3 linked regions of the Homo sapiens genome follow. The protein of the gene in region 2 interacts with the protein of the main gene of each other region in a pairwise test. Each region holds a gene or a part of one and is shown on either strand. Other genes may lie near its edges.

Region 1 (3,766 bases), on a different chromosome or scaffold from region 2:
ACATACTAATCTTCAACTAAATAAAACAGTATCACCTGCACATCACTGGTACTACTCAGGATCTAGCAGAGACTACAGAAATCATTTAGATTTCCTGCTATATTTGCCACAGAGGAATCTGAGGCCTAGAGAATCTACTGTAGGGGTGGCTAAATAGTGACATCTTTAAAAATAAATTTAGTAGTCATTGAAAATATTATATTTAAGATACCTAATTTTTGCAGAATCATTTCCTACATTGTGGCTATTCTATCAAACCAAATAAGAAAAAAAAAATTCTTATGAAGGTAAAATATTGAATAAATCAGTTATTAATATCCATTTCTCAAAATACATTGAAGTGTCCACAAGGTGTCAGGTATAGTGCAGAGTTGTGCATGGGGTCTTTAATCACTGGAATTATTGTGTGAACATCCACTTACCTGTTTTTTTTCCTCCCAAATATATCAATCAAACCACGAAACACCACACACAAAACAAAGCTACTTCTCCAACTGATCCACACTTGGCAGTATTTATTGAGGATTTCAATACACCAGGCATCATTATCATGTTATACATATTTACAGAAAGTGTATGGAAATGGAGTAAGAAAAAATTTCACTGTTACTAAACAGACCTATTAGGGTCATTTTGTAAATAATAATAATTATAATAAGACTCTCGTAAGTTTCCCTGTCCTTGAATGCTGTAAAGAAACAAAACAAAAACATGAGACAGAGACCACTGACTTAACAAATGGATGACTTTATTAAGAGAGAAGGACAAGACTGATGTTTACCTTGGTCAAACCATCCAGGAAAACAAAGCACACAGACTTATAGAATACTTTGGTTTAAAAATTATTCATAATATCAATATTAAACCTGATGTTTAAAGAACCTAATGAGAAATATAGTGTAAAAAACAAACCATGAAAACACAAGTTTGCATAGATGAATTAATGTAGATGTACAATTGGCATTTAAAAAAGGAGGTTTGCGTTTTGGGAGTGCCTTAACGATGTTGAACACCTCAACCTCCCAAGACACATGAAAGTCACCAGCACCACAATTCTCATTTTCCTCAATGAGGTCATGAGCAGGAACAACTTGTGCTGTACGGAGGTGAACTGAAAGAGACTGCTTCCATTGGCCTAGTCCAGATGAGTGTATATATTCCCATCAGAACCCACCACTGGTCATCTTTAAGGCATCCACAAAATGTCCCTCACAAATTCACTTAATCTCTAGATAGGCATGTGGTCTGAGGCAGCCTCTTTGTTTTCTGTCCTCACACAGGCAACTGCATTCCATCAAGGTTCTGTTCAATTCCACGAACTAGCTATTTCAAAGCTGCCTATTCTTCTGGGGCTTGGTTATAAATCCATGTGGATTTGGAATAACAATCCATTTGTTTTATAAATATATCCACATTCCAAATATCAAAGGGGCACTTCCTAAGGAATCTGAAAGTGCCCAGGCAATGCGTAGTCTCTCTCTCAAGAGATCACGTTTCTAAATTATGAGACAAATGATAGCATCACCTCAGGTTTCCTGGGCAACTTGATTTATATGAGCAAACTCTTGTACTTTTTAATTCAGCACCTTTTCAAAATATGTGCTGGGATGGATTCTTCTTAGGGAAAGCCCCATATAGAATTCTCATTTTGGAGCATCATTTTTATATGCTATCTCCCCAGTGTATCTTCTCAATATTTATAACACTTTATGAAATAAATATTGGGTTGCCTGTAAGAAGAGAAAAATATAGCTCTTTCTGAGAAAGAGCATTTGGCTTGCAGTTTACAGCAAGAGCTGAAATTAGAGACCATAGGGATTTCCAAGACCAATTTGACCAGAAATACAAAAATTCTGATGTCAAAAACCCTCTCACAAAATTTAACAGGTAGAAATTATTTTAGCAGTATAGCCTGAAATCCAGTGCAACAAAAATGTATCCCAATTCTATGATATGTCATAGTATGTTCTCTTAGCTGTCTTCCCTTACTTGTTCTTACTCCTTACTTGATCTTTTGGGAAGAAAATGTCGCCCAAACCCATCTTTCAATTTTTCTATTCTTTATATGAACCTCAGCAATGAATAACAGGGCATTAAGTTACACAATTAATTATGCCCTTATCTGAAATGCTGAAACCTGCACAGTGCTGGTTCTCTATGCTATGAAGTTAACTCAAAAAGAGAAAAAACATTTTCTTCTAGTTTGCTGAGAATGTACAAATGCATCTTAAATCTATTAAAATGTTACTAGGCAGTGTTCACATATTTATATATATAAGGGAAAGAGAATGGTTTTTAGGGCCATATATTTCTACAACTCAACATGATTACACGATTGTGTTAGCCTGTGGCATCAAACAGAATCACCACTCTGGTGTCTTTCTTATCAAAGCAAAAGTTTTCCTGCTTTTCTCTTATAAGTAATAAAACAGAAACACTCTTCACATTAGCAAACCTCCCATTTCAAGTAAATGTCTCTGTTTTGTTCGGTTTTCTCCTTTTTTTTCCCTGTTAATGGTTAAGCATTTCAATACACAAGGGTGTTGGTGAAATTCTTACAAATAATCTGAATGTCTTCACTGCATAACAGAACCTTTGGAAATATCTTCTATGTAGTCACCATAGAAGACAGTCAACTCTCAGTTACTCAAGAAGTGGTACCTGGTATGAAGGATTTGGCCAAGAAATTCTCTCCTTCTACCAGTCTTTTTGGTCATGCCACTGCTTATTCAGAGGTGGACAGACAACATGAAATAAAATTATGTATTTATTGTGTTACAGATCAGCCACAAGTCAGTGGCAGAAAAGGTCCAAAGCTTCTGATGACAAGGATACTTGGGGATCATCTGTGAATGTTATATCTCAATGGAAAGCTGACTGTCAGTCACATAAAGGAAGTAACGTACACTGACATCAGTCAGAGTCAAACTAATTTAAGGCAGTACTGCTCCTCACAAACAGTGCTGGCATAAAGTGCAGGTCTCATTGTAAAAGTGACTCTGTAGTAGTAAGATTTTCTCAGTTTACTCTTTCTTTCTTGACTTCTCTACAATTAAATTTCAGCATTTCTAATGACAGTTGTTAAATACCAGGAGCAACAATATCCTGACTCTTTAATATTCTTACCTCTCGCCATGGATAAAAGAGATTCTTCCACCAATAATTTGAAAGACATTGTGCCCCATGCAGCATTAACAGGACAGTCTCCAGTTTGCTTCTACCTGCCCATATTACTTATCATGGGCTAAAAAGAAAAAAAGTATTCTATCAACAGTAAGATAAGCAGATATGGCTTTAAGACTCACAGGCACCACCAGAAATGAGAAAATTGGACCATTTTATATAGTCACTTCTCTATGAGCAGTAAGTAATAGACAAAGTAATTTAAAAATCTTTTTTCCTTTTTGCTGAAGCATGAGGTTTTGATTTTGTTATGATCGTTTCAACAGAATATGGCACTCTATGTACAATGAAGTCTACCTTAGCACTCCTTACACAAATACCGTCTTCTCAAAAGGGAAAAAGCCTTTGGCTGCAAGTTCTATTCTATTATCAGTCCTTCAGAAAGCTGTTTACACAGAGATCTCACTCCTTTATTAGGGTGAAGATTTTACAGCCAATCATCATAGTTATCTTTCAAGAAAATAATCACTGAATAATGAATCATCTTGGTATTCCCCAAAGCGATGCTTATACAAAGGCAAGACATAAAAAATCTAGGACTTAAAATGTTAACCACTTGTGGAGTAAACTGAATGCACCATAT
Region 2 (8,680 bases):
TTTTCCTCCGTTTCCTGCCATGCGGGGTGGGAACAGGAGGCGAGCCTTGTGGGTATGGGATGGACTCGAGTGCGGAGCTGTCATTGCCACTGCTGAGTCCGCTGCACTAGTCAGGGCTACAGCCAGCCTGCAGAGTCTCCCTCGGCAGGAATGGACTGCTGGGACCATGGCCTCAGTCCTCCCTCCCCACCGGTAGGGTCTCTGATGCGGGGGCATTGGGGCTGGCTGCCCCACAACAGGCAGCTCTTGCCTGGCAGATGGCACCAGGGTTAGGAACACTCGCTCCTGACAGCGAGCCCAGAGGCGCCCTCTGGTGAGCCTCCCCGTGGCGCCCAGCTCTGCCGCAGACTCTCGGTCCCCTCCGTGCTCAGCAGTGTGCTGGTGTGGAGACCGCAGTGAGTAGGGCCCCAGCGGGCAGGAGCCCACGCTTGGTTTCCGCGCTTGCGGCCGGCGCTGCACGTGGCCCGGCTGCCTTGCTTTTCCCGTGTTTCCCTTGTGGCTGCTCATCCCTGTGTCCATCTGTGCTGGTTTCTAGCCCATAAGCCTTGGAGAGAAGGGGCCTTACAGGGTTGTGTCCCCTGCCCAGTGCCTGGCCCGTGGGGGACCATCAGTCACCACAAGGGACTTGGCTGGAGCTGAGCAGAGGGACCCGGGTAGTTAGGGCACAGCCTCCCGGGTGTCAGGGGTGCGAGGAGTCAGGCGGTTGTGGGGGTTCAGGAAGTCGTCCTGGGGCTCAGGAAGGCAGGGTCCTGGATTCCCAGGTGAGATGGGCAGGTGGGGCCAGGGCCAGAGCCAGAGGCCACCAGGTGGGTCTTTGGTACCGTGGCGGGTCCCCAGCCCCTCCCCTCAGAGGCAGGATGTGGTCCTCGCCGGTAGGGCCTCTCCTCCTGCCCTGTGAGAGGCAGGGGGCTGGGGAAGGGCCCTGACGGAGCCACTCCTGCCAGCCTGCACACTGGGTCCTGCCTGGGCAGGTCGTGGGGCCGGGGTGGCCTCCGCCCAGAAGGTGTGGTTTCGCAGCCCGCTGGCTTCAGTTCTCCTCCCGGCTTCCCAGAAGAGTCCAGTCTCACATCAGCCACTCATTTCCCTCTCCGGCAGCCGCTGGCTCTGAGCACGCCCTCTCTCGCCACAATCAAAAGAAGTGAAACTGTCCCAGGAAATAGAGTGGAACGCCCCAAAAACACCTAGGGAGGGGGGGCTCCTTCCTCCTAATGCCTTCAGCAGAAATGGAGGGCAGCCCCACTCTCCTGCCCCGCAAGGGACAGTTCCTGCTTCTCACCTGTGCCAGAGTCAGCCCTCCCGCGGTGGGTGTGACGAGGTGATTTTTTTTTTCTTTCTTCTTTCTTTTGAGATGGAGTCTTGCTCTGTCGCCTAGGCTGGAGTGCAGTGGCTGGATCTCTGCTGACTGCAAGCTCCACCTCCCGGGTTCACACCATTCTCCTACCTCAGCCTCCCGAGTAGCTGGGACTACAGGCACCCGCCATCAGGCCCGGCTAATTTTTTTGTATTTTTAGTAGAGACGGGGTTTCACTGTGTTAGCCAGGATGGTCTCGATCTCCTGACCTCATGATCCGCCTGCCTCAGCCTCCCAAAGTGCTGGGATTACAGGCATGAGTCACCGCGCCCGGCCAACGAGGGGATTTTTAAGAAGCTTCCAAGGTGCTGTGTGGCTGAGTTGAGAGCCACCAACCCACAGGCAGGAAAGGGACAGGGGTCAGAGGCATGGGGCCTGTGCTCACTGAATGCCCGGCACACCCCGCACATGAAGGCAGGTGGACAGAAAGGGTCCCGATGCGTGGGTGAGGACAGTCCCGTGGTGTGGGGGCTTCCAGAGCCAAGCCTTGGAGGAGGGCCAGGAATTCCTTGGCAAAGGGGCTGGTGTCTTTTTGGGCAGGTTGCCAGGACACAAGACCAGCCGTGTACTCCGGGCAGGCTACCTTTTGCAGAACTTGGGGTTGGGGGCATTTGCACTCATGGTGCCTTGGGCTGTGACCTCCAGGCATGGGCTAGAGGGTACACCAGGTGCCTGGCGTGGGCAGAGCCCCAGGCTCAAGCTTCTCCTGCCCCCGCACTTCCTGCTCTTGGGTCACTTCCTCCCAGGCTGGGTCCTAAACTCCTGACTGCCCTGCTGGACACCCCCCAGCCCCACACAGCCAACGCAGTGTGGCACCACACGGACCCTCATGGCATCCCTTGGCCACGTCTTGTGACAGCTCGGGGCAGGCAAGCACCAATCAGACCTGGGGAGCACCAGGGGCACAGGCCATGGCCCACGGCACGCAACACCTCACTCTCCTGCCCAGGCCGTGTGTGCACGTCTTCACACAAGTGATCAGACCCGGGATGTTAAATTTGCCGATGACTTCAGAGATGGCACACCCTGTGACACTTGGCCCCCAGAGGGCAGGGCCAAGCTTGTGACCTCAGGCGGCCTCCCTCTGGGAGCCTCCATTTGTGGCAGGGCCTGGCAGCCACTCGGCTCTTCATGAAGCGCTGTGTGCTGGGAAGGGCCTCACACTGTCCATCCTCACTCTGTGCGGCATCCCTTGGCGCCAGGCACACATGGGATACGTGGGGTGAAGAAAGCAACGCCTGTGCTCAGACAGCGGTGCTGGGGTTCAGTGGTTCCCGCCATGTTCCATGGGACATTTCAGGGCTGTTTTTCGCATCCCAGGCGCTGTCAGAGGGAGTGGTTTGGGAATTCAGTGCTTGCTTCTGCCTTCCCACCACACGAGGAAAGACGCTGTAAGTGCCTGTCATTGTCATCGCTTTCACCGTAGCTGAGAGCCGTGAGGACCAAGGTGTGCCAGGCCTGTGTTGACTGCCTTGTGAAACTCAGTGTCCACATGGGGCAAGGGCTGGGCTGTCCCATCCTGCAGACACGGGCACCAGAGCACAGGAGAATGGCGGCCTCCCTGCCCGGCTGCCTGCACCTCTTCTCGTAACTGTCAGCTCCTGCTGCCTCTCCCAGCCAAGCTGGCAGGATTTTTTTTTTTAAGTAGACCCCACATACTCAAGGATGGGGGCAGATCCCCACATTGCTATCTGTGGGGATGTTTGTGTAGGCGCTTCTGGAAGCAGTGTCTTCTGAGCCATGTGTTCTCAGGCTGAGGCTCTGGACTCCACCGTGGCCCAGATGGGGCCTACTGTGGCAGGGTCCCCAGTGGGTATGTGAGTGGCAGTCGGGACACACACAGGTGGGCAGGCCACCCCCACCCTCCCCCTCCCCCTGCAGGCCCACCCTGCTCTGCAGGCAGCGTGTGGCCCTGGGGTGCCCACGGCAGTGCCTGAGGTGTGTGTCCTGATCACTTGGCCTCCTGCCTCCAGCTGTGGATGCGATGTGGCTGGAAGGCGGCTCAGGGCCTCCTGTCCTCTTCTTCCTCCTACCCCTGGGCTCACAGCGTTTCCCCTCTTCTGTCCTCTAGCTGGTCAGTGAGAAGGTCGGAGGGGCCGAGGGGACCAAGCTGGATGATGACTTCAAAGAGATGGAGAAGGTGAGGAAGAAACTGCGTGCTCTGTGTGGTGGTGGCACTGCTGGGGCCTGACCTCTGCCGGGCATAGTGGAGGCGGCCAACCTTGATGGGCCTGGGTCTGGAGTGATGGGGCCCGGCAGGTGTGGAGAGATGGGGTGGTGTGGGGGCCTCGTCAGCTGGACTTGACGGGCACCAGCTCTCTCCCCTGCCGTGGGCAGGCAGCTGTGGGGACATGGCTGAGCTGAAGACATGGAGAGGGGGTTGGGGGGTCCTGGTATGGGCTCTTAGGGCAGGAGGCGGTGCAGCAGCGGGGGTCTTGTGTGCCTTGGGCCCCCACTGGCTGTGGAGTCTTATATGCTGCTTCTCTTCACAGAAGGTGGATGTCACCAGCAAGGCGGTGACAGAAGTGCTGGCCAGGACCATCGAGTACCTGCAGCCCAACCCAGGTGGGTGCTCCAGCCACTGCCAGGGCCTGCCCCAGGCCCTCTGGCCTCTGTGTCAGAGGGAAGGCAGGGGATGACAGAACCGCCAGGCTCATGGGTTGTGGGCTTCAGGCACAGCTGGATCCCGGAGTGCAGAGGCCATCCTTGGTGCTGCATGCTGCCTTTCCACCTCAACCAGCAGCTCAGCCCCTCTGTTGGCTTCACTCTCATGCCGACTGGTTCCTCAGGGCCGTCCCAGCCTTCAACCCCTCTTCCAGCCAGCAGTCCTGGCAGGGAGCCTCTCCCCCAGCTTACTTGTGGGATCCATTTGTATTGGCCGCCCCTCCCCAGTGCCCCTGGCCTGGACTTCACCTCTTGGGCTTGGGACTGGGTCTCCCTGGCTGAGAGACGGGCTTTTCCCCAAGGAAAACCCAAATGCTGGCTCCATAGGAGGCCACGGACAGGGGGCAGACGCACACCCAGCAGTGTCCACTCAGGCCCTGCCAGGAGCAGACCCAAGCGGGCAGCGGAAGGGACACAGCTCATCACCCACCCCGGGAGCCTTGGCCTCAACCACCCCCCGCTGCACATCACTGCTGCGCCTCCTCCCTGGCACCCCCCAGATGAGGGGTCATAGCCACGTTCCAAGAGGAGCAGCCCTTGGAAGGAGGAGGTTTTGCCCCCTGAGGAGCTTGGTCACCTCTCCACCCGCTGCCAGCTCCTTTGAGGCTAGCAGGAGCAGGGAAGGGACCCTCTGGGGATTCCACTGTGCTTTGTGTGGCCTAGGCTGTCCACAGGCACAGGAAGCAAGGGTGGGGAGGAGATGTGGGGGCTGCAGTCTGCCAGGGCAGAGGAGTGCAGGCCTCACAGCCCACACCCACCTGGCCATCCTATCCCAGCCTCGCGGGCTAAGCTGACCATGCTCAACACGGTGTCCAAGATCCGGGGCCAGGTGAAGAACCCCGGCTACCCGCAGTCGGAGGGGCTTCTGGGCGAGTGCATGATCCGCCACGGGAAGGAGCTGGGCGGCGAGTCCAACTTTGGTGAGTGGTGCTCTCTGGAAGCCACGCCCACCGTCCCTGGAGGCCACACCTCAACACAGGCAGGGCAGGTCCAGGCCCTGCATGTGCTGAGTGCCGGGGACGTACAGTGGCCCCCACAGCTTTCCAGCTGCAGAGGTGCAGGAGACTGCACAGACCAACCCATCCAGCACTGGCCAGCAGCTGATAGGGCCCCTTCCTGTAGCTCCAGACCTTCCCCAACTCAAGCCAGCTGCTTCCCCAGGGCCTGGACCCCCCAGCATCTGTCCTTCCACCTGTTAAGGGCAAACCTAGGCCCTTTTAGGAGCATTGGAGGGTCTGGTTTAACGTCCAGCATCGATTCGGATTTTAGGATCCTTTGTTTTGCCCTGAGTTCCAATTTCCGGGCCCTGGGCTTAGAGTGTTGGGGGGCTGTTAGAAGTTGGGATGGGGCCAAGTGTGGTGGCTCATGCCTGTAATCCCAACACTTTGGGAGGCCAAGGCAGGTGGATCACCTGAGATCGGGAATTCGAGACCAGCAAGACCAATATGGAGAAACCCCACCCCGCTTCTACTAAAAAAAAAAAAATATATATATATATATATACACACACACACACACACACACACACACACACAATTAGCCGGGTGTGGTAGTGCATGCCTGTAACCCCAGCTACTCGGGAGGCTGAGGCAGGAGAATCACTTGAACCCAGGAGGTGGAGGTTGCAGTGAGCCGAGACTATGAAAAAACAAAACAAAACAAAACAAAACAAAAACCGGGTGCGGTGGCTCACGCCTGTAATCCCAACACTTTGGGAGGCCGAGGCGGGCGGATCACAAGGTCAGGAGTTCGAGACCGGTGTGGTCTATATGGTGAAACCCCGTCTCTATTAAAAATACAAAAATTAGCTGGATGTGGTGGCAGGCCCCTGTAATCCCCCTTACTCAGGAGGCTGAGACAGGAGAATTGCTTGAACCTGGGAGGCAGAGGTTGCAGTGAGCTGAGATCATGCCACTGCACTGCAGCCTGGGCAACAGCGAGACTTCATCTCAAAGAAGTTGGAAAGGATCCAGGTGTGGGGGTGAACGCCTGTGGTCCCGGCTACTTGGGAGGCTGAGGTGCCAGCATGGCTTGAGCCCAGTTTGAGGCCTGCAGTGAGCTGGTACAGCGCCACTGCGTTCCAGCCTGTGAAACGCTATTTCAAAAACAAAGGCTGAGGAGTGTCTCAGTCTAGTGGTCCCAGGCCCGGTATGATGGCTTCCCCCACCACTTCTCCACAGGTGACGCATTGCTGGATGCCGGCGAGTCCATGAAGCGCCTGGCAGAGGTGAAGGACTCCCTGGACATCGAGGTCAAGCAGAACTTCATTGACCCCCTCCAGAACCTGTGCGAGAAAGACCTGAAGGAGATCCAGGTGCTGCTCCTGCGCCAGCCTGGGGCCTGTCCCTTCCCCCTGCCGGATGGGGCAGCCCCATTCCTGCCACCCTCACCTCCAGCCTCGGCACTGCCCTCTGGGTCTCAGGCAGGCAGGATCCCCAGTGGTGCAGGGACAGTGGGTCAAAGCCATGCGTGGGGCGGCCCTCTGGCCGCTACTGGTGTGACCCATGTCCCCCACGTCTCCAGCACCACCTGAAGAAACTGGAGGGCCGCCGCCTGGACTTTGACTACAAGAAGAAGCGGCAGGGCAAGATCCCCGATGAGGAGCTACGCCAGGCGCTGGAGAAGTTCGAGGAGTCCAAGGAGGTGGCAGAAACCAGCATGCACAACCTCCTGGAGACTGACGTGAGTAGCTCGGGGTGTCACATCCTGAGAAGACCTATGCCCTTGGGAGGCCGGGGTGGTGCCTCAAGGGAGCTGGAGGACAGATCGGCACCTACCTGGCCGCTGCAGCAGGGGAGGTGGAGGGTATGGGCCCCAGTCCCCTGTCCCCTCTCAGCCCCCTTGCCTCCTGTGGCTTCACCTCGGGAGTCAGGGAAGGCACAGGACAGTGGCACTGGCAGGAGCCCCTGAGCCCTACTGTCCCCACAGATCGAGCAGGTGAGTCAGCTCTCGGCCCTGGTGGATGCACAGCTGGACTACCACCGGCAGGCCGTGCAGATCCTGGACGAGCTGGCGGAGAAGCTCAAGCGCAGGTGAGCCCAGGGCCTTGGTCTCTCCAGAGTCTGGGCTGCCATGCGCCCTCTGCCAGCGCAAGTGGGCAGCACACCTCGCTGTGGGGTGAGCACATGGCAGAGCAGCATCCTGGATTCTTCCTGGGGACTGAGTGGAAAGGCCTGGGGGGCCGCGAGGTCAGAGGAGCTGGGGCTCTGAGAACTCTGAGTCAACACCCAGCCCTGCCCCGATGCAGGCCCCGGGGACTCCCTCCCTGGCTGCACGTTGCTGCTGCCACAGGAACACCCAGGCTCCCCTCCCTGAATGCAGAGGCCAGACCTGCTTCAGGGGCCTTGGCGTATGTGGGGCGCCGTCCGTGGTGGGGAATTGGGGGAGGAGGCAGGGGATGCGACTGGGGGTGTTGTAGGTAGATGCTGTGGCAGGCCCCAGCTGCTTGGCAATCTCTGGGATGCCTCCAAGGTGGGGGTCCAGGCTGGAGGCCCTCTGGGTAGACATCCCAGTCTAGCTGTGTCCCAGGGTCCATGTGTCACAACCCCACTGACGGCCTCTTCCTGCAGTCCCAGGCCAGGTCATTAGGCAGCAGCATAAATACAAGAGTGGGGCTGCCTCGGCCGTGACACGGGCTCGGTCCACTCACGCCTCTCCCTTCACAGGATGCGGGAAGCTTCCTCACGCCCTAAGCGGGAGTATAAGCCCAAGCCCCGGGAGCCCTTTGACCTTGGAGAGCCTGAGCAGTCCAACGGGGGCTTCCCCTGCACCACAGCCCCCAAGATCGCAGGTAATGGGGCATGGAGCCCTCTTGCGGAGGCAAATGCCAGCGGGTGGGAGTGGCCAAGGGCTGGCCCTGTCCTGGGTCTCTGAGCGCCAGACTCCTGGGTGCAGCTCTCAGCCGTGCTCCATCTGGACCGCCAAGGCAGACGGGAAGGGCTGGCCCCAGCCTTCTGCAGAAGGGGCCCTGCCCGACCGTTTTGAGCCCACAGCCTCCTCGTTTTGCTTGTGTTTAGCTTCATCGTCTTTCCGATCTTCCGACAAGCCCATCCGGACCCCTAGCCGGAGCATGCGTGAGTGTTCCCAGGCCCGCCTCGACCTCAGTGCTGCCTTCTCGGCCATTCGGGGAGGGTGTTTCTCCTCCCGCCCTGTTCTCTGCCCATCTCAAGCAGGGAGGGGCCAGGCTCGTGCAGCAGTAGGGGGCACAGGCCCCACAGCCTGCAAGATGCCACCCCTCTGGGTCTCAGCCTCACAGTGTGAATGAGGGATTGCCAAGGGCACTAGCCCAGCTAGCTCTAGGCTGTGTGGTGGCTACAAGGGCTTGAGGGCATCTGGTCACTCCCTGTCACCGCAGCAGCACCGGGTGTCCCCAGCACTTCCCAGGAGTAGCTTTGGTGACCACTTAAACCAAGCTTCTCCCATCCTCCCTCCTGGGTGGCAGTAGAGGCCGGACCCCAGAAGTGGCAGGGGCAGGGGGTGGCCCAGGCAGGGCAGAGGGGAGGCCCATGCCCACCCACACGCTCCAGGTCACAGCAGGTCTGAGACCCCAGACTGGGCGGGGTGAGGCGTAGCAGCCCCAGCCCCACAGCCCGCTCCCGCCCCCAGCGCCCCTGGACCAGCCGAGCTGCAAGGCGCTGTACGACTTCGAGCCCGAGAACGACGGGG
Region 3 (6,931 bases), on a different chromosome or scaffold from region 2:
GCCCTAGCTGTGAGCACAGCCTTCTCTCTGAAACCTCAGACTGCTGTGTGGGTGGCCTCAGGATCACAGGCTTCCCAGGCAACCAAGGAGGCCAGCCACCCCCACCACAAGGGGCAGCCCTTGTCCAAATTCCTCAGATAAGCAGCTCCCAACAGAACAGGGAGCCAGTGCTCAGAAAAAGCACCCCACCCTGTCCACACCGGAGATTCCTAAATCTGAGCCTGGCTGTGCAGTTCCCCTCCCTTCCCCTCCTCCCAGCAGAGTGTTTGACCTCTGGATTCAGCCAGCAGGCCCCCAAACCAGCGAAGTTCAGTTAATAACAGACTCCTTCGAGGTCCCTGGCAAGCCACTGACTTCCTCTTTCTGGGCCTCAGTTTCTCCGCCTATAACACGCACACATGGGCTCTCAGAACAGGGAGGCAGCTCTGGCTAACAGGGCCCACAAGGAGGCCCAGGGAGCAAAGGGCAGACCAGGTAGGGAAGCAGCGTGTCCCAGGCACTCGGCCAGGCCCTGCCCGCATACTATTTTATTTCATTTTTATTTTTTAAAAAGAGAGAGGCCGGGTGCAGTGGCTCACACTTGTAATCCCAGCACTCTAGAAGGCCAGGGGGCGGGGTGCGGGGTGGATCATTTGCAGTCAGGAGTTCGAGACCAGCCTCGCCAACATGGTAAAACCCCATTTCTACTAAAAATACAAAAAAATTATCGTGGTAGCGTGCGCCTGTAATCTCAGCTACTGAGGACGCTGAGGCAGGAGGATCGCTTGAACCCAGGAGGTGGAGGTTGCAGTGACCCAAGATCACGCCACTGCATTCCAGCCTAGGCAACAGAGTGAGACTCCATCTAAAAAATAAACAAAATTAAAATTTAAAAAAAATTAGCTGGGTGTGGTGGTTGGCACCTGTAATCCCAGCTATTCAGGAGACTGAGATATGAGAATTGATTGAACCCGGGAGGTAGAGGTTGCAGTGAGCCATGCTTGTGTCACTGCACTCCAGCCTGGGCAACAGAGTTAAATCGCGTCCCCCCAAAAAAGAAAAAAAAATAGAGACAGGAATCTAAGTCGTCCACGCTGGTCTTGAACTCCTGGCCTCAAGCAAGTCTTCCACGTAGGCCTCCCAAAGTGCTGGGATTACAGGAGTAAGCCACAGCATCCAGCCTGCCCTAAGTTCTCGCTGCTGCAGCTTCTCCACCTGTATTAGGCTCACTTTCCAGAAGAGGAGGCCCAGAAAGTAACAGAGTCAAGAGTCACACTCCCATCTGTAGAAGTCCAAGGCTCTTCGGAGACAGGCCAGGATGATGTGACCCCAGCTGGGCCCAATTGGCAAGGGACAGCCTGGGAACTCAGTTGCATTCAGCAACAAGCTGGGCAGCTGGACCTGCCAGGATGGGGACGAACAACACAAAACCAAACTCAACGGAGCCTCTTTCAGAGAGGGCAGCAGCCTCCTCGACAAGGGTATTTGCAATGCAAAGCAGCCCAGCTCCAGCCAGAGGAGGATAGTCACTCGGAGGGGGCTGGGTAGGCCAAAATCCAGCCACCTCCCTCCAGCCAGACTAGGGAGTGCCTGCGATCGGGCCTTCCCAGGCGCCTGGGGGTGCCGGGGAACCCGTGGCTGGCCTGGACTCTTGAATCATATGACAGCCCCAGTGGCCAGTTCGGGTGCAAGGTGGCCTGAACACCCCTCCCCTGCACAATCGCTCAGGGTACAAATCCCTGATAGGCTGTACATGCAAGTCTGCAGAATGGACCTACTGCAGGCGGCACGCAGGGCCCCAAGAGAAGGCTGAAAGACTAGACCCCCAGGTATTTGGCTGGCGGCTGCCTGGCACCCTGCCAACTGCCTCAGGCCCAGTCCTGCCTTGTGCAACCTGCCCCAGGCACACAGAATCCCCCGGATCCTCCTCACACCGGCCCCAAGGGGCCCTTCCACACTTGCCAAGTGTCTAGGTCTCGCTCATCACCCCCGCTGCTGCAGGCGCGACCGCCCCAGCTCCTACCTTGACGACAAGCTGACAAAATCCCCTCCATCCAGCAGCCGGACCTTGCAGAAGAGGACCCCGTTCACGAAGGGAACCGCAGTCAGCTCCTCCAGGGTGAAAGTAGTTTGGAATTTGAATTTCTTCTTCTTCATCAAGAAAGCCATGAGCGAGTTCCCTGAGTCTGAAGCCCCGAAGGCGAAAAAAGGTGGAGAGGGACGGGATTCCTTTCCCTACACCACACCCCCTCCTCAAAACACCAGAGCCGGATCCCGCCCTGATGGTGGCGGAGACGGCGGAGATCGGAGTCCGGGGCCCCAGGTCTGAGAGATCCACCAGTCCAGTTCGCGGGCCGGCGGGCTTCACCCTCGGGGAGCCGGGGCTCGGAGGGGTTCGGAGCGGCCGGGGACCTCACCGGCATGTAAACAGCAGGGCATGGCCCAGGAGGCAGAGGCAGGGGCGGAGGTGCGGGGCTGCGCGCGAGCGGCCGCGCTGGCTTGCAGCATCCCGAGACGCGATGTCCGGGGAGCTCACGCCGCGCGGCCGGGCGGACCGGTGAGACTGAGGGCGGCGGGCGGGCTGGCTGGCCGGTAAGGCTGAGGGCGGAGGGCGGCCCCGCCCCCGCCCCGCTGGCGGCCGGGGGAGGTGCCCTCGCCGCTCACGCCCCCGCACCTGGGTGCCGGGCGGCCAGCGCAGGTGAAGCCGGGGAAGGTGGGGCACCCCCAGGGGGCTGCCAGGAGCTCGGGGGCCTCTCCAGGAGGCGCGTCGGGGTCGCTGCGGGCCGGGAACGTCCGGCCTCGGGCCTCCTCAGGGCAGGCACCGGGCCGGCCCCGGGCAGCGGAGGCGCCGCCTCCTCCTCGATCCTGGGACCCGCGCCGCGGGCCCCGGCGGAGCTGAGGCGCCCTTCGGCCCGGCCGGTGGCGCCCGCCTCGCCCGGCACCCTTCGAGCAGCAGCGCCGCCCCCTGCGGCCCCGACGCTGCAGCCAGAGCCCGATGCTGCGAGGCGCCGCTTGGAGAATGCCTGGGCCCCGCGCGGCCGCCCGCCTAGCCGCCGCCGAGCACGGCAGGGGCGGGGCGCCGGCGGCTCAGCCCTCCCGCTATTGCGCGGCCCGGCTAGGCGGGCGCGCAGCGCGATTGGTGGGCGGTGGCGTGGGGTGGGACTCGCGGGAGGCAGAGGCGGCTCGGGGCTCTCGGATTGGTGCACCGCGCGGCCGGGCCCGCCTCCTAGGGCGGGGCGGGGCTGAGGGAAGGGAGAGGGGCCCTGGGAAGGCAGTGGGAGGTCGCAGGGCTGGCGGGGCAGGGAGAGCGCGAGCAGAAGAAAAGAAGAAACAATGACAAGGAGAAACAGTTTGTGGCTGCAGCGGCCTTCCAGGGTCCCGCCAGACTTGAGCTCGTAGAACCCTGAAGCAGGCCCGGAAGGTAGCGAGTCTCCTTTCTCAGAAAGCTGGCGCCCAGAGAGAGCCCCTGGCAGGTCGCTTGCTCGCCCTGAATCTCTAGTGCCCCTCAGCAATGAGCAGAGAAGCGTCTGGAAGGCTTCGCCGAGGAGGTGGCTCTGGCTCAGTCCATCACGCAGCCTTGTGACCCAGCTTGTAACATTCCAAGCTGTTATCTAAGCTTTCTGTTGTCCTTTAGTTTCTTGCCCAGCGTGACTGGTCTCACTGACTAGTTAGCTGTTCTGGGGGCAGAACCCACTCGAAAGCCTCGTACCTCCCAGGCCCCTCGGCATATTGTGGTTCATTCATCCAGTCCCCAAATGTTTAGGGGCAGTCTCCACTAAGCCAGGCTGGGACCTAGTGGAGAACCTGGTGGGCTTGCCCTTCCCAAATGCTCCCAGCTCAAGACCACCAGGTGGAGAAGCAGACAGGGACACAGGCAGCGACAAATCTATGGGTAAGAGTTGTAACAGGGGATAAGAGGCACCTGACATGGGTTGGGGCGCAGACTCAGAAAGTCTCGAACAAAGGGAGCCAAGCCATCCACAGGATGCGTGCCCTGAGTCACGCAGGGTCCAGGCATAGGGAGCTGCCAGAGACCTGGTGGCTGGAGATCGTGGTGCCCGCAGAAAGTTTCAGGCAACTACATCTGGCTGTACTGTGGCAGTTGGAGAGAGGGGCAAGAGATGGGGCTGGAAAGGCCAGATCTCCCAGAGTCTTGTAAGACCGTAAGGAGGAAGCCACGGACACGCGTTGAGATGGAGAGTGTCCTGGTCAGATTTGCTTTATTTTTTATTTATTTATTTTTTTTTGAGACGGAGTTTCGCTCTTTTTGCCCAGGCTGGAGTGCAGTGGTGCAATTTCCACTCACTGCAACCTCCGCCTCCTGGGTTCAAGCGATTCTCCTGCCTCAGCCTCCTAAGTAGCTGGGATTACAGGTGCGCGCCGCCACGCCCGGCTAATTTTGTATTTGTAGTACAGACCGGGTTTCACCGTGTTCGCCAGGCTGGTCTCAAACTCCTGACCTCAGGTGATCCGCCCACCTCGGCCTCTCAGAGTGCTGGGATTACAGGCGTGAGCCACGAGGCAAGGCCCAGATTTGCTTTTTGTCCTAAGAAGCTTGCTCTGGCTGTGGGCAGTGTGAAGGGGACAAGCTGGGAAACAGGTGGATGAGGAGTTTGTTTGGTGATGCAGGCAAGAGATGATGACAGTGCAACCTCAGCATTGTGGAGAAAGCAAGAGGATAGGTCTGAGGCATCTGAGAGACAGGTTTGACTGGACTTAGGGATGAGTTAGGTCTGGACATGTGGTGACCAAGGACTCTGGTTTCTTCCTTCTTCCCAGCTGTAAGATGGGTGGCGATCCATATTTCTCTCCAGTTTGTCCCATAATTTAGATCAGAGAGTTAACCAGATTAAAGAAAAGTGTTAACAGCAGCTTCCAATGTGACTGTGTGTCCCCTTTGGCAAACGGGGAAGTTAAGGCCTAGAGGATTTAAAACACTTGCCTGGGGTCTTTCCCCTGAAGCACAGGCTCAGAGTGCTGAACTGTGCTGCACACAGTGTGGGGTGTGCTCTCCTCACTATCTTGGCTGGGCCTGCTCCACAAGGGCAGAGCCTGTGGCTACCTGACCCCAGGAGGAGACTTCAGAGTGGAGAGCCAGCCAAGGACATCCCAGTGACTGGCTGGCTCCTCAGCTATGACCCTGAGTAACCTTGGGCCACCCAACAGGAAGCAGGGTGGGCCTGACTGCCAGGTTTAGCTGGGGTTGGGTATTTATCTCTCTGCGGCCTGTGGCCTGGGAACCCAGGAAATTTCCCTTCCCTCATTTCCCTGATGGTGCCTGGGGAAGGGGGAGAGTATGGTGCCAGGACAGCATGCTAGATTTGGGTGAGACAAGCCTGAGTTAGGATCCTGGCTCTGCTGCATGGTGGCGGTGTGGCCTTGGTTCAGGTCTCTGAATTGGTAAGGGGTTCGGTGTGGTATGGCTGGGACCACTTGCAACAGAACTGAGTTCAAAATCCGGCTACTTTGCCATTGACAACCGGGGCCACACAAGCTTTGGGTGCACCTTTGCATATGTAGAAAGGAATCTTGAAGAATACCGTAAACTTTCCCATCTCAGCCACGCTTCTTCACCTGTAAAATGGGAATCAGGATTTCCATCTTTCCGGAATGTGGTGAGGACTTCAAGAGGCTGTGCCTGTGAAAGGAATAGGCAGCTCCACACTTCCCCAGCCTCCCAAATTCCCAAGCATGGCCTATCCTACCTCCCCGAGGCCATGACCAGACGCATAAGGAACCTAGTACCAAACAAGATAATTGTTTGCCAGACCACAAGGCAAGTCGTCTGGAGAAGGAAACCCAGGGAAAGGTCAGAGAATGATTGGGTTGGAAGTCCTGATACAGATAGGGTGGTCAAGGAAGGCTTTTATGAGGTGTCATCTTAGCCAAGACCTAAGTAATAAGGCGGACCCAGGTACAGGAAGCTCTGGGGACAGAGGCATGAGCTGACATGTTTGGAGGACTCCGTGTGACTAGAATAGAGTGAGTACAGGGGACAGAGAGCGGTGGGGCAGACGAGCCTGTGCACATGGGCCCTTGTGGGCCTAGGAGGTGTTTTTTGTTTTGTTTTGTTTTGTTTTGAGTCCCGGTCTCACTCTGTTGCCCAGGCTGTAGTGCAGTGGCATGATCTCAGCTCACTGCAACCTCTAGCAGGTGTTTAGAGTTTATTCTAAGCCCCACGGGACAGCACTGGAGCATGTGAGCAGGCAGAAGGGTGACAAGATGCAAATTAACATTTTGTGTGTGTGTGTGTGTGTGTGTGTGTTTTGAGACTGAGTTTTGCTCTTGTTGCACAGGCTGGAGTGCAATGGCGCGATCTCGGCTCACTGCAACCTCTGCCTCCCGGGTTCAAGCGATTCTCCTGCCTCAGCCTCACAAGTAGCTGAGATTACAGGCATGCGCCACCATGCCCGGCTAATTTTTTGTATTTAATAGAGACGGGTTTCACCATGTTGGTCAGACGGGACTCAAACTCCTGACCTCAGGTGATCCACCCGGCTTGGCCTCCCAAAGTGCTGGGATTGCAGGCATGCACCATGCGCCTGGCCAAATTAACTTTTTTTTTTTTTTTTTTTTTTTCAGACAGAGTTTTGCTCTTGTTGCCCAGGCTGGAGTGTAATGGCTTGATCTTGGCTCACCACAACCTCCACCTCCCAGGTTCAAGCGATTCTCCTGCCTCAGTCTCCCAAGTAGCTGGGATTATAGGCATGTGCCACCACGCCCGGCTAATTTTGTATTTTTAGTAGAGACGTGGTTTCTCCATGTTGGTCAGGCTGGTCTCAAACTCCCGACCTCAGGTGATCTGCCTGCCTCGGCCCAAATTAACATTTTTAAACACTCCTTCTGGCTACTGAGAATGGATTGATTGGCAGGGGGCAAGAACAGAAGCAGGCAGACAGTGAGGAGGCAATTGCAGCCATCCCAGTGGGAGATTGACCAGGGTAACCAGGGT

Evidence for each region. The genes of interacting proteins can lie anywhere in the genome.
Region 1: the proteins of SH3GL1 (region 2) and CCDC50 interact in binary tests that used the Homo sapiens proteins (3 or more experiments, as listed by UniProt).
Region 3: the proteins of SH3GL1 (region 2) and EEIG1 interact in binary tests that used the Homo sapiens proteins (3 or more experiments, as listed by UniProt).

What each region holds. Positions count from the first base shown.
Region 1 is NC_000003.12:191,395,394-191,399,159, reverse strand, and holds the end of CCDC50 (coiled-coil domain-containing protein 50 long isoform), read right to left. Parts: 3' UTR 501-3,766; downstream 1-500.
Region 2 is NC_000019.10:4,361,737-4,370,416, reverse strand, and holds part of SH3GL1 (endophilin-A2), read left to right. Parts: intron 1-3,422; coding exon 3,423-3,491; intron 3,492-3,843; coding exon 3,844-3,916; intron 3,917-4,791; coding exon 4,792-4,935; intron 4,936-6,195; coding exon 6,196-6,329; intron 6,330-6,538; coding exon 6,539-6,697; intron 6,698-6,943; coding exon 6,944-7,047; intron 7,048-7,680; coding exon 7,681-7,805; intron 7,806-8,031; coding exon 8,032-8,088; intron 8,089-8,620; coding exon 8,621-8,680. UniProt on the Homo sapiens protein: Implicated in endocytosis. May recruit other proteins to membranes with high curvature.
Region 3 is NC_000009.12:127,977,990-127,984,920, forward strand, and holds the start of EEIG1 (early estrogen-induced gene 1 protein), read right to left. Parts: upstream 3,001-6,931; 5' UTR 2,149-3,000; coding exon 2,003-2,148; intron 1-2,002. UniProt on the Homo sapiens protein: Key component of TNFSF11/RANKL- and TNF-induced osteoclastogenesis pathways, thereby mediates bone resorption in pathological bone loss conditions.